Linked DNA regions of Homo sapiens. The gene in region 1 interacts genetically with each later gene. Each region holds a gene or a part of one and is shown in the gene's direction. Other genes may lie near its edges.

The links.
Region 2: changes in PTAR1 (region 1) and SNAP23 are lethal when combined (synthetic lethality), as found in Homo sapiens cells (one study listed by BioGRID).
Region 3: changes in PTAR1 (region 1) and VPS39 are lethal when combined (synthetic lethality), as found in Homo sapiens cells (one study listed by BioGRID).
Region 4: changes in PTAR1 (region 1) and TMED2 are lethal when combined (synthetic lethality), as found in Homo sapiens cells (one study listed by BioGRID).

Annotation. Positions count from the first base shown.
Region 1 is NC_000009.12:69,750,012-69,753,511, reverse strand, and holds part of PTAR1 (protein prenyltransferase alpha subunit repeat-containing protein 1), read left to right. Parts: intron 1-2,561; coding exon 2,562-2,731; intron 2,732-3,500.
Region 2 is NC_000015.10:42,498,634-42,502,133, forward strand, and holds part of SNAP23 (synaptosomal-associated protein 23), read left to right. Parts: intron 1-3,500. UniProt on the Homo sapiens protein: Essential component of the high affinity receptor for the general membrane fusion machinery and an important regulator of transport vesicle docking and fusion.
Region 3 is NC_000015.10:42,184,305-42,187,804, reverse strand, and holds part of VPS39 (vam6/Vps39-like protein), read left to right. Parts: coding exon 1-47; intron 48-441; coding exon 442-534; intron 535-3,104; coding exon 3,105-3,288; intron 3,289-3,500. UniProt on the Homo sapiens protein: Regulator of TGF-beta/activin signaling, inhibiting SMAD3- and activating SMAD2-dependent transcription.
Region 4 is NC_000012.12:123,587,552-123,591,051, forward strand, and holds part of TMED2 (transmembrane emp24 domain-containing protein 2 isoform 1 precursor), read left to right. Parts: intron 1-59; coding exon of another isoform or gene 60-80; intron 81-2,790; coding exon 2,791-2,898; intron 2,899-3,500. UniProt on the Homo sapiens protein: Involved in vesicular protein trafficking. Mainly functions in the early secretory pathway but also in post-Golgi membranes.

The DNA of each region.
Region 1 (3,500 bases):
GTGTATATATCTATTTCCATCCAGGACTTGGACACATGCTGTTTTCAGTATACTTTATTAGGAGAAAATCAGAGATAATGTTCTTTTAGAGGGACAAGAAGTGAAAACTATTAATTTGAATATTATCACTAAAGTACCAGGATAATCAGCCTTTCAGGAAGCAGCTATTGGGCACCTGCTATATCCAAGCCATTCTTATTTTATAAAGTATTTCTTGAAAGAACAGACAGTCAAAGCAGTGTGTTTTTTAATTGTGCAGATGGCTCTTTTCTGTAGTTTAGATACCAAATTATTAGCTGGGCATTTTAATCCTAGTTTAATTAGTGAGCAAGACAGGTTTTTATATTGTGAATTTAAGTTTAAAAAAAAAATCCCCCCCAAAAACAAACCATACCCAGAAACAGGATTCTTTTATTCTTGTTACTATAACAGTTATATTGTTGACTCTTGCAGTTCTTTGAAGTGTTGTAAGTAGGTTATTATATCTCAGAGAACAGAATTTCCTGAAATAATCACATTGAGTTTATTTACTTATTTAGTTTTACTTTATTTTTTAATATTCTTCATGTAGTAAAACACAAACATCAGAAAATACCAGAGATTCAGTCATATATTAGTCAAGTATAGCTAGATATGGCTAGGGGTCATAATAATGAATTAGATAGATTTCAGGATACTACCAAATAGAGATGCACAAAATATATTTTGAAATACTGGGCATTGACCTCAGGTGCTCTTTCAGCTTTGTCCTTATTCTTCCTACAGGACTTTGTTTATATTATTGGAGTAGTAAAGTGGTAACATTTTATTATGGATATTGACACAGATCCCCAGCAAGACTTTAGCTCTTTGAAGTCTGAGACCACTTTGCTTTATTCTTTTTGAATTTTAGAACCTAAGAAAGCACCCAGTACATTGTAGTTAATCAGAAAACTTATGATAGTATTGATATAGTATATCAAAACACCTTTGAGTCAACGGAACCAATTGTAAGGATAAAAACCCATAGATCCCACAGTCTTCTTGAGAGTTAAATTAGCTTGAAAGAATTGTTAGTGTCTTGCAACCCCTAAGATATCCTTTTTATTGATAAATCCCTGTGCCACTAATGAAGTGATCAGTAGAAAGTAGATTACCTCTAAGCTATTCAGTTTAGTTTCCAGGAGGGGTTTTATTTTAAATCCACAGCCTCCTACCAATTTGTGATAGTGGCCCAACAAAAAGACAGGGTGTTTCTCCTACTTTGTAATTCAACCAATTTCCCTCTTTTGGGTCTATCAAACCACTGTGTTCTTGGTAAGGGGATGCCAGGGACATAATACATAATGTCACACACAAACTCTGAAAACCAGTTCATTATTCTGCTTTTTAAAGACATGTTTAAAATATCTATATAGACACTCTAAAAACATTTATTTCAACTACTCTTATTGTTAAAAAGTTTCTTGTTATTCATTAATTAAACAGAGGACATTCTGTTTGAGAAAGGATCCTTTGTGTAGGCAAGAATTATAACTTCCTTTAGAGTTGAAAGGCATGTGAATGTGTTTTGCACAAATTTTTTACGTTTGCTGGTTCATTTACTAAGTAAGTCAAATGCCCTACATATTGTTTATTAAATCTCTGCCTTTAATGTAAATTTTCAGCTTAAGTTGAGGTGGATTGAGGGATATAGATGCTACCACAGAGGAAAATTATTGAATTCTGAAATGTATTTTGTGTTTTAACATTTATTTGGGTGGTTTTTTAATTCAGGAAAATATAAAGAAGAAAAAATGGCCCAAAATCTCACTGATAAAATAACGTTTTTTGATACTTTGTTTCTGGTCCACATGCATTTATTAGCAAGCAAGCATAAACACATTTGTTGACATTAAAAAAATAGAAATACATACAATTATTAGATAATTGAAACTGTATAAAAATAAAATCCTTCCTTACCACCTTTCTCTCTCCAAAAATTTCTTGTTATCCTTCCAAGAAAATTTTTAATGCATCTATATATCTTCTAAAGAAATTATACAAAAGGATTTGTGCTGTACACTGTGTTCAGCATTTTGCTTTTTGTTTTCATTTCATATATCTTGGCAACTTTTTTTATGTCAGCATATGCAGATCTACCTCATTGTTTTTTAATGGCTTGATTATGTGGATGGGCCTTTTTTTTTTACTAGTCTTATATTGATAAACATTTAGATTGTTTCTAGTTTTGTTGCAACATTGCAGTGAACATCTGATTCACATATTTTGGCATAGGATAATTTCTGAGCAGTTGAATTGCTGGATCAAAGGGTATGTTCCTTCAAAATTTTGAAAGACTTTTTTTTAAGTTGCCATCCAAAGGCAAGACCAGTTTTCACTCCTGTCTACAGAGAGTACAGCATACTGGTTTTCTCATACTCTTGCCACTATTAGCATCTACCAATCCCAGTAAGTGAGCTAAATAATATTTGTAAGGAAGGGGGAAATATGTGGGGTTTTTAAAATACTCTGAAATTAGAAAAATGTTGAAAAGGTTAGTATCCTTATTTTTAATTCTTTTTTATGTTTTACATATTAAGAGATGAAATTGGCCTGATCCCATGTCCTGAAGCTAGGTATAACCGGAGTCCCATAGTCCTGGTTGAAAACAAACTGGGTGTGGAGAGCTGGTGTGTCAAGTTCCTTTTACCATATGTCCACAACAAGCTCCTTTTGTACAGAACAAGAAAGCAATGGCTGAACAGAGATGGTAAGTATGAATCATATTTTCTTCATTTGGTTTTTAGAAGCGACATGGAATATAGTAGGAAGAGCCCTTCTCTGAGTGTCAGCATTCCTGGATTCTAGTTCTGCTTCTTCTGTTCACTGTCTCGGTGGGTGCTAACCTTTCTGTCAAGTGAGTAGTTTCTACTCACCTGGACAAATTTTACAACCACAGTGATTATATAGAAGCCCTCAAGCAGAATTTCAGGGCACCTCCTGTAACCAGAGCAGTTCAGATTTTATCAGTTTATGTATTGGGGTCATTGGTAAGATTTCATTTGAAGGAAAAAAAAAAATCTGAATGTCACTGAAGAAGACTCTAGTCCCTATAGGCTCAGTCTCTGGTTTCTAATCCTTTAGTATTTTTATAGGCAGCAAAACTCATTTTCATAGTAGTCCAAATGAGATAATGTAGGCATGATAGTGGTAGTGATATTATGAACCAGCCCAGTGATTTATGGATGTGCCATTCCACTGCAAGTTCCAGTTGAGCTCTGGCCGTTTGTATCCTGTTCCTGTGCTGAAATGAGCAAAACAAAACTATCCGGCATTCACTTCTTCCATTTCTCTCAGACAGTTTTTTTTTTTACTGCATCAGACAATCCCTAATCATTCCATCTGGTCTCTTTTCTTGGTGTTCTGCCATATTAAGCCTCCATGTGCACAAATTCTGTTTATCATTGTATGCCCACCTCAGGTCTCACTTTTTGGGAGAAGACTAATTTAAGACCATGTCCTTTACTGTTTTTGTAAAG
Region 2 (3,500 bases), on another chromosome or scaffold:
TTAACATTCAGCTCCTTGTTACTTAACGCAAATTTCTACAGCTGGCTTAAATTTCTTCTCTTTGCTTTATAAATTACTTGGTGGTCTCAGCTCAGTGATCCAGTGATCTGAGTGATCTCAGGAAAAGAAAGAAATATTAGCAAATAAGAGAAACACCTTACATTGCCATACTCCTTTGACAGGTCATGTGAAAGTAATTTAAGTGATCATATCACTTAGCCTGCAGCTTGAATATTTGTCTCAGGCTAGGTTTTACTTTAGGTGCTTGTAGTATGTGTTTATGCACTAGAAAGTTAGTGTTATCATAGTTCCAGCATAAGGATGTCTTACTGTGCCAAATAAACAGTGGAATTCCTATATGTATCTTGATATTTGTTTCTTGTACACTGAATGAACTTAGGTACAATACACACAAGCCCACTTAACTAAAGGTCACATCTTTTTTTTTTTTTTTGACAGAGTTTCACTCTTGTTGCCCAGGCTGGAGTACAATATCTTGATCTAGGGTCACCTCAATCTCCACCTCCCGGGTTCAAGCGATTCTCCTGCCTCAGCCTCCCGAGTAGCTGGGATTACAGGCAGGCGCCACCATACCTGGCTAATTTTATATTTTTAGTAGAGACGGACGGGGTTTCTCCATGTTAGTGAGGCTGGTCTCGAGCTCCCGACCTCAGGTGATCCGCTCGCCTCAGCCTCCCAAAGTGTTGGGATTACAGGCGTGAGCCACCGCGCCCGGTCTAAGGTCACATCTTTTCTAATCATTTAGAACACAACCTAGAACCAGAAAGAAAGTAAACAAAAACAGGCCTGTACTCATGGGACAGCTGTGGAGTCTTCACCTATGAGTCATACCACCATCATAATTTTTGCCATTTAGAGTACTGTTGTTATTTTACTTCATGTTTAATGGGTTTTTTAAAAAAACATTGCCCACTTCCAAAGTGATAATCTGTGAAATCATGGTTTTTATGTATTTTATAGCTTTTTTAGCATCCATTATAATAAATACATAACTATTAAATATATAACTCTTTCATATGTAACAGTTAAAATCATATTCTTGCTCAGCACTTTGGAAGATACTGCTTTGGGCCTAATCAGCTCATTTTTAAAATGAAGATTGAACTAAAGCTTATGGGCTTGAAAATTCTGTGATCTCTATGATGATGTTCATTATCATAACACAATTCTAGCAAAGTTTACTGGTTCCACCAGATGAAAGTAGATTAGGGCCGGGCGGTGGTTCATGCCTGTAATTCCAGCACTTTGAGAGTCTGAGGCAGGAGGATCGCTTGAGCCCAGGAGTTTGAGACCAGCCTGGGCAACATGCCAAGACTGTCTCTACAAAAATTTTTTAAAAAACTAGCTGGACCTGGTGCCCAGTGCCTGTGGTCCCAGCTACTCAGAAGGCTGAGGTGGAGGATCGCTTGAGCCTGGGAGGTCAAGGCTCCTGTAGATTAAAATAACAAAAAGGAAAAAGAGGATGTTTGCTCTTTGATATCAGCTGCCTTTTTTTTTCCCTGAATTCAGGCTTTCCCCCGCCCCCGCCCCAATTTGGTTCCTTTATCTGCAACACTCTGGACATCTGTTTTTGAGCTATGTTTGTACTCCACATTGTGTATATATTAGCATGTATAATATTATAATGTTGCTTATCTCCAAGAGTGCTGAACTTTTTATTCCATTACTATATTTTGTTTCCAGATCTGTAGGTTGACAGACGGGCAGATGACAAGGACTGCTCTTTTCTTTTCCCTTTTTTTTTTTTTTTTGAGACAGAGTATTACTCTTGTTGCCCAAGCTGGAGTGCAATGGTGTGATCTCGGCTCACCGCAACCTCTGCCTCCTGGGTTCAAGTGATTCTCCTGCCTCAGCCTCCTGAGTAGCTGGGATTACAGGCATGCGCCACCACGCCTGGCTAATTTTTTGTGTTTTTAGGAGAAACGAGGTTTCACCATGTTAGCCAGGCTGGTCTCAAACTCCTGACCTCAGATGATCTGCCTGCGTTGACCTCCCAAAGTGCTGGGATTACAGGCATGAGCCACCTCACCCGGCCAGGACTGCTCTTTTTCTTTGCTGTGATAGGTAGAAACTTGAAACAGAAGGATCCAGTGCCTCTAACAATTAGAGGAAGTGGATTATGGAGCCAGGAAACAAAATGTACTGTGTTTTTTTAAATAGTAAGAGTAGAAGAAGCCCATTTGTATTCATTTAGATTCACTGACATTTTGGTTTGGGTTTCAATTTAGGTTGTATTGCTACTAAAGTATTTAAATCACTGATTCCTATGTTTTTCCAGAATTCTCTCTTCTTGTTGCTTTCTGTAAGTTCTGTAACTTAGATGTAAAGTTTGTTTAAATTTATTTTGACAGTGTTTTGGAAATTGAAATTACTTTCGATGGCCTTTCAATACTTATAAAACTCAAGCCAGGTGTGGTGGTGTGTCTGTAGTCCCAGCTACCTGGGAGGCTGAAGTAGGAGCATCAGTTGAGGTCAGGAGTTCAAGACCAACCTAGGCAGCATAGCAAAATAAATTTCAAACTTCTTGGTATAGTATACAAAGCTCTTCACAATATGTGTTCTGTCTTGAAAGCCATCCCCTGCCCTCCATACATACACACACACATTATATTCCTGCCTCACCACTGAAGCCTTACATTGTGGCTTTTTCTTCCTTTTTGATAATTTAATTTAAAATCATAATTTTTTGGACTTGATCATACTTGGATTTTGACCCACACAAATGAGAATCAGGGTGTTTGTGTTTTTTTGTTTGTTTGTTTTTTAAGACAGTCTTGCTGTGTCACCAAGGCTGGGGTGCAATGGCATGATCATAGCTCGCTGCAGCCTCAAACTGCTGAGCTCAAGTGATCCCCCTGCTTCAGCCTCCTGAGTAGCTGGGACTACAGGTGCACGCCACCAGGCCTGGCTGATTTTTTTTTTGTTGTTTAATTTTGTGTAGAGATGGGGGACTTGCTTTACTACCCAGGCTGGTCTCAAACTCCTGGCTTTAAGCAATCCTTTTGCTTTGGCCTCCTAATGTGCTGAGATTGTAAGCATGAGCCATCATGCCTGGCCAAAATCACGAGAGATATTTCATAATTATTATGAAAAGTTATAATAGTTTTATTGAGCACTGTGTGCCAGGCACTGCTCTAAATACTGTGCTTGAATTAGCTCAATCCATGTAACAACACTTAAAGTAAGCATTATTCTCATTTAATGAGGAAACTGAAGCACAGAAAAGTTAACAGTAATCAGGATTTGAAACCATTATGCCTTCAGATATTGGGCACATAACTACTATACTATGTTGTCTTTTGTATAAGCAAGAATGCCACTCTTTTCTGTTGGGGGTATCCTTTCCAGGGACGTGAGTGCTTATATTCTCTCTTTTTTTTTTTTTTTTTTTGAGACGGAGTCTCGCTCTGTCGCCTAGGCTGGAGTGCAGTGGCGCGATCTTGGCTGACTGCAAGCTCTGCCTCCCAGGTTCACGCCAT
Region 3 (3,500 bases), on another chromosome or scaffold:
AGCTGCAGCTCTATTTCTGGAAGGACAGGGAATTTCATGAATTGCAGGTAAGTCCACTGTTCCTTGGTCCATGGTTGGGTGGGAGCTGCTGCAGTGGCTCGGTTCTAGTGAAGTTCAGGACTCCAGTCTTGTCATTCTACGCAAATGAATACTCTGGTATGAAGTGCATGAGAGCTTGTTGATGCCTACTTGTAATATGATTCTACAGTGTTTTTATAGATTGGTTTATTTCAAAGTGGGTTTTCACCTTTTCCAAATGTACTTTGTCCAGTTCATGGACTTGTATTTTTATTAAGGGTAGTTTCCTGGCCTTGTGCCTGTAGAATTGTGCCCGATGAGGGTGAGGGTTGTTTTGCAGAATGGAGGTTGCAGAATAACAGGAAAGTCATGATTTTTTAAAAAAATATTTATTTCATTCAGATCCTTGCTCTCTTTTTTCAGGGGGACTTTAGTGTGCCAGATGTGCCCAAGTCCATGGCGTGGTGTGAAAATTCTATCTGTGTGGGTTTCAAGAGAGACTACTACCTAATAAGGGTAAAATCTTATTATTTTGCAAATATCATTAGTTTATCTTGGGGAAGATGATTATCTGCTCCAAACTCCAGGTCAAGCGACCACTTTAAGTAGAGCTTTTGGCATAACAGGATTTGTTATTTGTATGTGTAGTTATCATTCATGCTCAGCATTTTTCACAAATAGGATATCTTTGTAACTTAAGTCAGTCCAAGAGTCAACGCTCAGTTCTTTACGTAATGATGATCCACAGTGTGTATTTTACTATTGGGACAGATAATGAAGGCTGTTTGCCTCTGTCCAGTGGATCATCATGGACTGCTATCCTAAGGCTTCAGTGCTTAGGAATTTTAAACTAATTTTAGTATAAACTTAAGTATTTTTAAGACTTTGAGTTTCCTCTCCTGCCGTCAAATCTTTTTGTATGTTTGTACTAAAAGTGATTCTCACTATTTTTTTAAATTTCAAAAGCCACGTGTTTTTACACGTGTTTATTACAGAAAATATAGATAAGGAGATAAAGGAAGTGCAAATCAACCATAGTCCCCCCACTCAGAAATAGTCACTGCCAACTTCTTGGTATATGAACTTCCATCCTATTGGTAAAAATACTATGCTATACAATTGTTTTATGACCTGTGTTTTCTCTTAACGTAAGTTGTAAATATCCATGACGTTGTTTTTCTCCAATATGCATACTATATGTAGAAAAGATTGACACACTGTTCGTTTCATTGAATAATCTAAATCTCTTAGCTTCACACCCCTTGTAATTCAGACATGGCAATTCTAGAAGCCTCTCTCTCTACCTTCCACTGGGTGAGCTCTTCATTGGTTATTTTATTTTATTTGAGACAGGGTACCCCTCTGTCACCCAGGCGGGAGTGCAGTGGCAGGATCTTGGCTCACTGCAGCCTCCGTCTCCTGGGCTCAAGCAGTCCTCCCACCTCAGCCTCCCAGGTAGCCCAGATGCCTACCACCATGCTCAGCTAATTTTTGTATTTTTTTTTTTTTTGTATTTTTGTAGAGATGGGGTCACAATATGTTGCATAGGCTGGTCTTAAACTCCTGGGCTCAAGCAGCCCTCCTGCCTCAGCCTCCCAAAGTGCTGAGATTACAGCCACCATGCCTGGCCCCATTGTTATCTTGTTAATATATTTGTTCCATCTTTGTGTCATTTGAATATCCTGATTTTATCAGCATCAGAGTTGCAGACTCCTGGAGGAGTCACTGCTGTGCCACTGACTCAATAGCAAGTAGGCCTACAGATGGTGAGAGAGCGCACAAGGAATAAGGGAACTGAGCAAAAGCTGGACTTAAGGCTCTCAGTTCTCTGACTGCCTTGGATGCTGACATCACCTTCAGGGTGGGAAACCTTGCTTTAGGACCAGGCTATTCAGAAATTACTTATTTACATACAGTAAAATTTATTCTTTTTGGTGTACAGTTCTGTGTTTTGACAAATGCTTAGATTTATGTGACTAATGCCACAATCGAGATTCACAACACTACCATCACCCCCCAAAATTCCCTCATATTGAAGTCAGCCTCTCCTTCTGTTCCTAGACCTCTGGTAACCACTCATCTGTTCTTCATCTCCTATAGCTTTGCCTTTTCCAGAATGTCATATAAATTGAATGACACAATATGTAGGCTTTTGAGTCTGGCTTCTTTCACTTAGCAGAATGCACTGGAGATTTATCCATGTTGTTGTGTGTGTTAATAGTTTATTCTTTCTCATGGCTGAATAGTAGTCTATGGCAAGGTGTTTGTTTATCCATTCATCAGTTGATGGACAAAGTTGATTTTGGCCAGGCGCGGTGGCTCACACCTTTAATCCCAGCACTTTGGGAGGCCGTGGCGGGTGGATCACGAGGTCAGGAGATTGAGACCATCCTGGCTAACACGGTGAAACCCCATCTCTACTAAAAATACAAAAAAAAAAATTAGCCTGGCGTGGTGGCACACGCCTGTAGTTCCAGCTACTCAGGAGGCTGAGGCAGGAGGATTGTTTGAACCCAGGAGGCGGAGGTTGCAGTGAGCTGAGATTGTGCCACTGCACTCCAGCCTGGGCGACAGAGCAAGACTGTCTCCAAAAAAAAAAAAAAAAAAAGTTGTTTTCAATTTTTAGCAATTTTGAATAAGCATCTAAGACATTTGCATACAAGCGTTTGTGTAAACATACATTGGCATTCCTGGGCAAATGCCTGGGAATGGGATTGCTGGGGCATATGGTAAGTGTATCTTTAAGGGGCATATGGCAAGTGTATCTTAAACTTTGTAAGAAACCAACAAACAAAACAGCTGCACCATTTTGCATTCCCACCAGCAGTGAATGTGAGTTCTAGTTGCTCTGCATTCTTGCCAGCACCTGGCATTGTCAGTTGCCAGGCTAGATGCTTTCCTTTGCATTAGAGAACGGGTTTTACATTGTGATAACAACGGTTATTATAATAAACTCTGTAACATTTTCTTATGTCAAACAAGGAATATTATTGGCTTCTCTAGGTTTCGGGTTCTATCTGGATTTTTCCTGTGTTCTTACCTCTGGCTGGGGAATGCTAGGTGACTCACTCTGTTTCTTCCTATAGGTGGATGGAAAGGGGTCCATCAAAGAGCTCTTTCCAACAGGAAAACAGCTGGAGCCCTTAGTTGCACCTCTGGCAGATGGAAAAGTGGCTGTGGGCCAGGATGATCTCACCGTGGTACTCAATGAGGAAGGGATCTGCACACAGAAATGTGCCCTGAACTGGACGGACATACCAGTGGCCATGGGTGAGACCAACAGTAGCTGCTGTTTCCCACTTTGGGTTGAGGTTGTGTGCCATTCCTGCAGAACGGAGTCCCATTCGTAGCTTTAGCAGACTGGTTTACGTTGTGTCATTCACTTTCAGTTCCCCTTCTTATAAGTAGATGACATTTTAGGGTCATTAAAAATGGGATAGTCTAGTTCTTGCAAGAAGCTGAGTTTTACTCCAGAGGGGGAA
Region 4 (3,500 bases), on another chromosome or scaffold:
AGTTTAGCTAAACTTTTTGTTGGTTCTTTTTGTGTTAAGATATCTTAACTTTTCTTTAGGTGGTGGAGATACCTGGGATGGTATGTGGATTGCTTTTTGACAGCATCCTTTTTGCATCTTTTTGTTTGCTAATGTCTAATTTCTGCTTTCTTTTTTCTAACCTCAGTTTGTTGGCATGAGAGTGTTTTTTTCTCTTAAAAAACCCCTACAACTAATTGGATTGATATTTTTTTTGGTGGTTTTTTATTTCGTTGACAGGAGGTATAGGTTAGGTTATTTTAAACTAATAGCACTGAAAACACAGTTGACATTTTAGTAGTAACATCTTTGTTCTTTAAGATGAATGCTAAAGAGTGGAAATTCAATGATAAGGGGACAGAAGTCCCAATTAAACATAGCTCATAGCAAATGGTGCCTTTGACTTTGTAGAAAGTCATTTTGTAGACTTCTTAACCTGAAGCTTAGTTGGATATGAAATGCAGTTCTAGGAGCCATATGTTGATATGAAGACAAGAGTTCTTTTAGCCATATGTTGCAGTTAGAGTGTTCATTGCTCAGGTTACCAGTAATAAACCCTGATTGGTTCTTGGTGGTTCTGGATAAATTGCTTACCGGGAGCCAGCACATTTGGTGGTGTTTTTTTTTGTTTTTTTTTTCCCCACAGTGCATGCCAGAGTTTTTGAAGCTAGTCATTGTTTCACACATTTCATAGTATACTATTAGCGTGGTAACATTTCTCCCAGATATTCAGTATCAGTAGAGTGTTAACATCATAAAGAAGCTGAGTTGTTTGGTTGGATTTTGAAATCTATAGAATTTAGAGAGTCCTACTACTTAGTAATTCCTGCACTCATTTTTCAGGGCCACTTATAGGGTAGGACTTGACTAATTTTCAGGGAGAATGAGGAGTTCTGAAAGGCTTTTTTGGTTTATTTTCTGGAGTTTGATCCTACTTAAATAGTTTGAAAATGTTGGTTGATGAATGTGAATATTGAACTTCTTAGATAATTTTTTAACATATATCCAAAATTCTTGCTTTTGCTTGTTAATGTCAGTGAATGGCAGCTGTCAAATCAAGCCTTCCTCTAAAGCAGTGGTTCTCAAGTGAGGATGCCCAGGGGATATTTGGCAATATCTGGAGGTATTTTTTATTCGGAAGACTGGGGGTAGGTGCTACAGGCATCTAGGACTGGAGGCCATGGAGGCTGCTAAATACCCTATAGTGCATCAGATAGCGCCCCACAGCATAGAAAAGCATTTGGTCCAAAATGGAGACAATGCCACTGCTGAGAAACCCTGCTCTATCAGTTCCATGTGGTGCATGGGGCTTCCAAAGGGAAATTTCGAGTGAGGGACGGTTTGACATTCCAATTCAACTGCCTTCAATGGTAGAGGCCCTTGGTTTCTCCTAAGAAACTTGGGGTTGTCTGCGAGAATCTGGAATCCCAGAAGAGACCCAGTCTTGGGCAGGGATGAAGAGATCCCCCTTTCCCAGGAAGGTTTCCTGGTGCTGTTTCTCTCCTGCCTGTCTGTTCATTCTCATAACGTGGCACTACCTAGAAGCACATGCTTACTCTTCAGAACAGTGCCTTGTGTGTATTTTTGGTTCAAGAGGGATGCCTGGTTGAAAACTTGTGCCGCTAAGGGCTTGTCTCTCTACTTACATTGCCTGCTGTTCCCCACTATAGTGAAACTATTACTTTGTCAAAGAAGAATGTTTGAGTTGGTGTGGATTTTCCTAAGAGCGTTTTAATGTTTTTCTCTGCTCAGCTTTATAGAGATTAAGAGTCTGTTTTGGTGCTGCTCCTGCTTCTTAATTAATATTAGAGTTACATGACTCTTAGACTTTATTTGTAGGATTACATTTTAAAAATACAGGTATTTATTTTGTGCTCTTAGTCCCCTCTCCTCAGTGTTTTACTACTTTTGCTGTAGTTAATAGTCAGTATAGTGAACTTCACATAACAACATTCCATTAGAAGAAATTTCCTGGGGTTGTTTTCCTTTCCTTAGTAAGCATTATATAGTATGTTTCCTACCCTGAAAGAGGTTTCTCTACTGGGAAGGGACTTTTAAAAATGCTTTGAGAATTAAATTGACATGATTCATATCAGTAGTCCAAATTGATGTTTGAACCATTTCAAAAGTAGCTTCTTTTGCAGGCCTTCTCTGAGGATTTTGAAAAGTTATTTTATATTATTTTATATTTTATATTTATTTTATAAGTGTTTTTCAAAAAGAGATTGCCCCAGCCTAGGCAACATAGCGAGACCCCGTCTCTAAAAAATAAAAATAAAATGGTAGTCAGGCATAGTGACGCACCCCTCAGGAGGCTGAGGCAGGGGATTGCTTGAGCCCAGGAATTTTAGGTTACAGTGAGCTATAATTGCACCACTGTACTTGAGCCTGGGTGATAGAGTGAGATCCTGTCTTGAAAAAAAAAAAAGATGGCTGGGTGCAGTGGCTCACGCATGTAATTCCAGCATTTTGGGAGGCTCAAGCAGGTGGATCACCTGAGGTCAGGAGTTCAAGACCAGCCTGACCAACATGGTGAAACCCCGTCTCTACTAAAAATACAAAAATTAGCTGGGTGTGGCAGCGTGTGCCTGTAATCCCAGCTACTCTGGAGGCTGAGGCAGGAGAATCGCTTCAGCCTGGGAGGCAGAGGTTGCAGTGAGCTGAGATTGAGCACCACTGCACTCCAGCCTGGGCAACAGAGCGAGACTCTGTCTCAAAAAAAAAAAAAAAAAGACATTGACAAATGTGTTTTGTTTTCAAATCCTTCTATAGCTCACCAGAACAAGCTAGAAGAAATGATCAATGAGCTAGCAGTGGCGATGACAGCTGTAAAGCACGAACAGGAATACATGGAAGTCCGGGAGAGAATACACAGAGCCAGTAAGTGAATGCCGTCACTTTGCAGCAGTGTCTGATGGTGAAGGTTGTTTTACTCAACAGCTTGCTCGTATTTTCCTCATTTGGAAACTTTGCAAATTTTATGTGAAAGCATTGACTTTAAAAGTGTACCTACACGAGATATTTTTTGAGCATACACATGTGTGGAGCTTTGTAGTTTATTATTGGGACATTCATTGTAAACTAGAAAATGCTATTAAGATTTAGTACAAGTTTTTAAGAGTTTAGTTTTCTGGCCGGGCATGGTGGCTCACGCCTGTAATCCCAGCACTTTGGGAGGCTGAGGCAGGCGGATCACCTGAGGTTGGGAGTTCGAGACCAGCCTGGCCAACATGGTGAAACCTCGTCTCTACAAAAAATAAAAAAATTAGCTGGGTGTGGTGGCGTGCACCTATAGTCCCAGCTACTCGGGAGGCTGAGGCATGAGAATCACTTGAACCGGGAGGCAGAGGTTGCAGTGAGCTGAGATTGGGCCACTGCACTCCAGCCTGGGCAATGGAGCTAGACTCTGTCTCAGGGAAAAAAAAAAAAAAAAGTTTGGGTTTTTAAAAATGTATGGTGAGCTAAGGAATAAGCTAATTGTT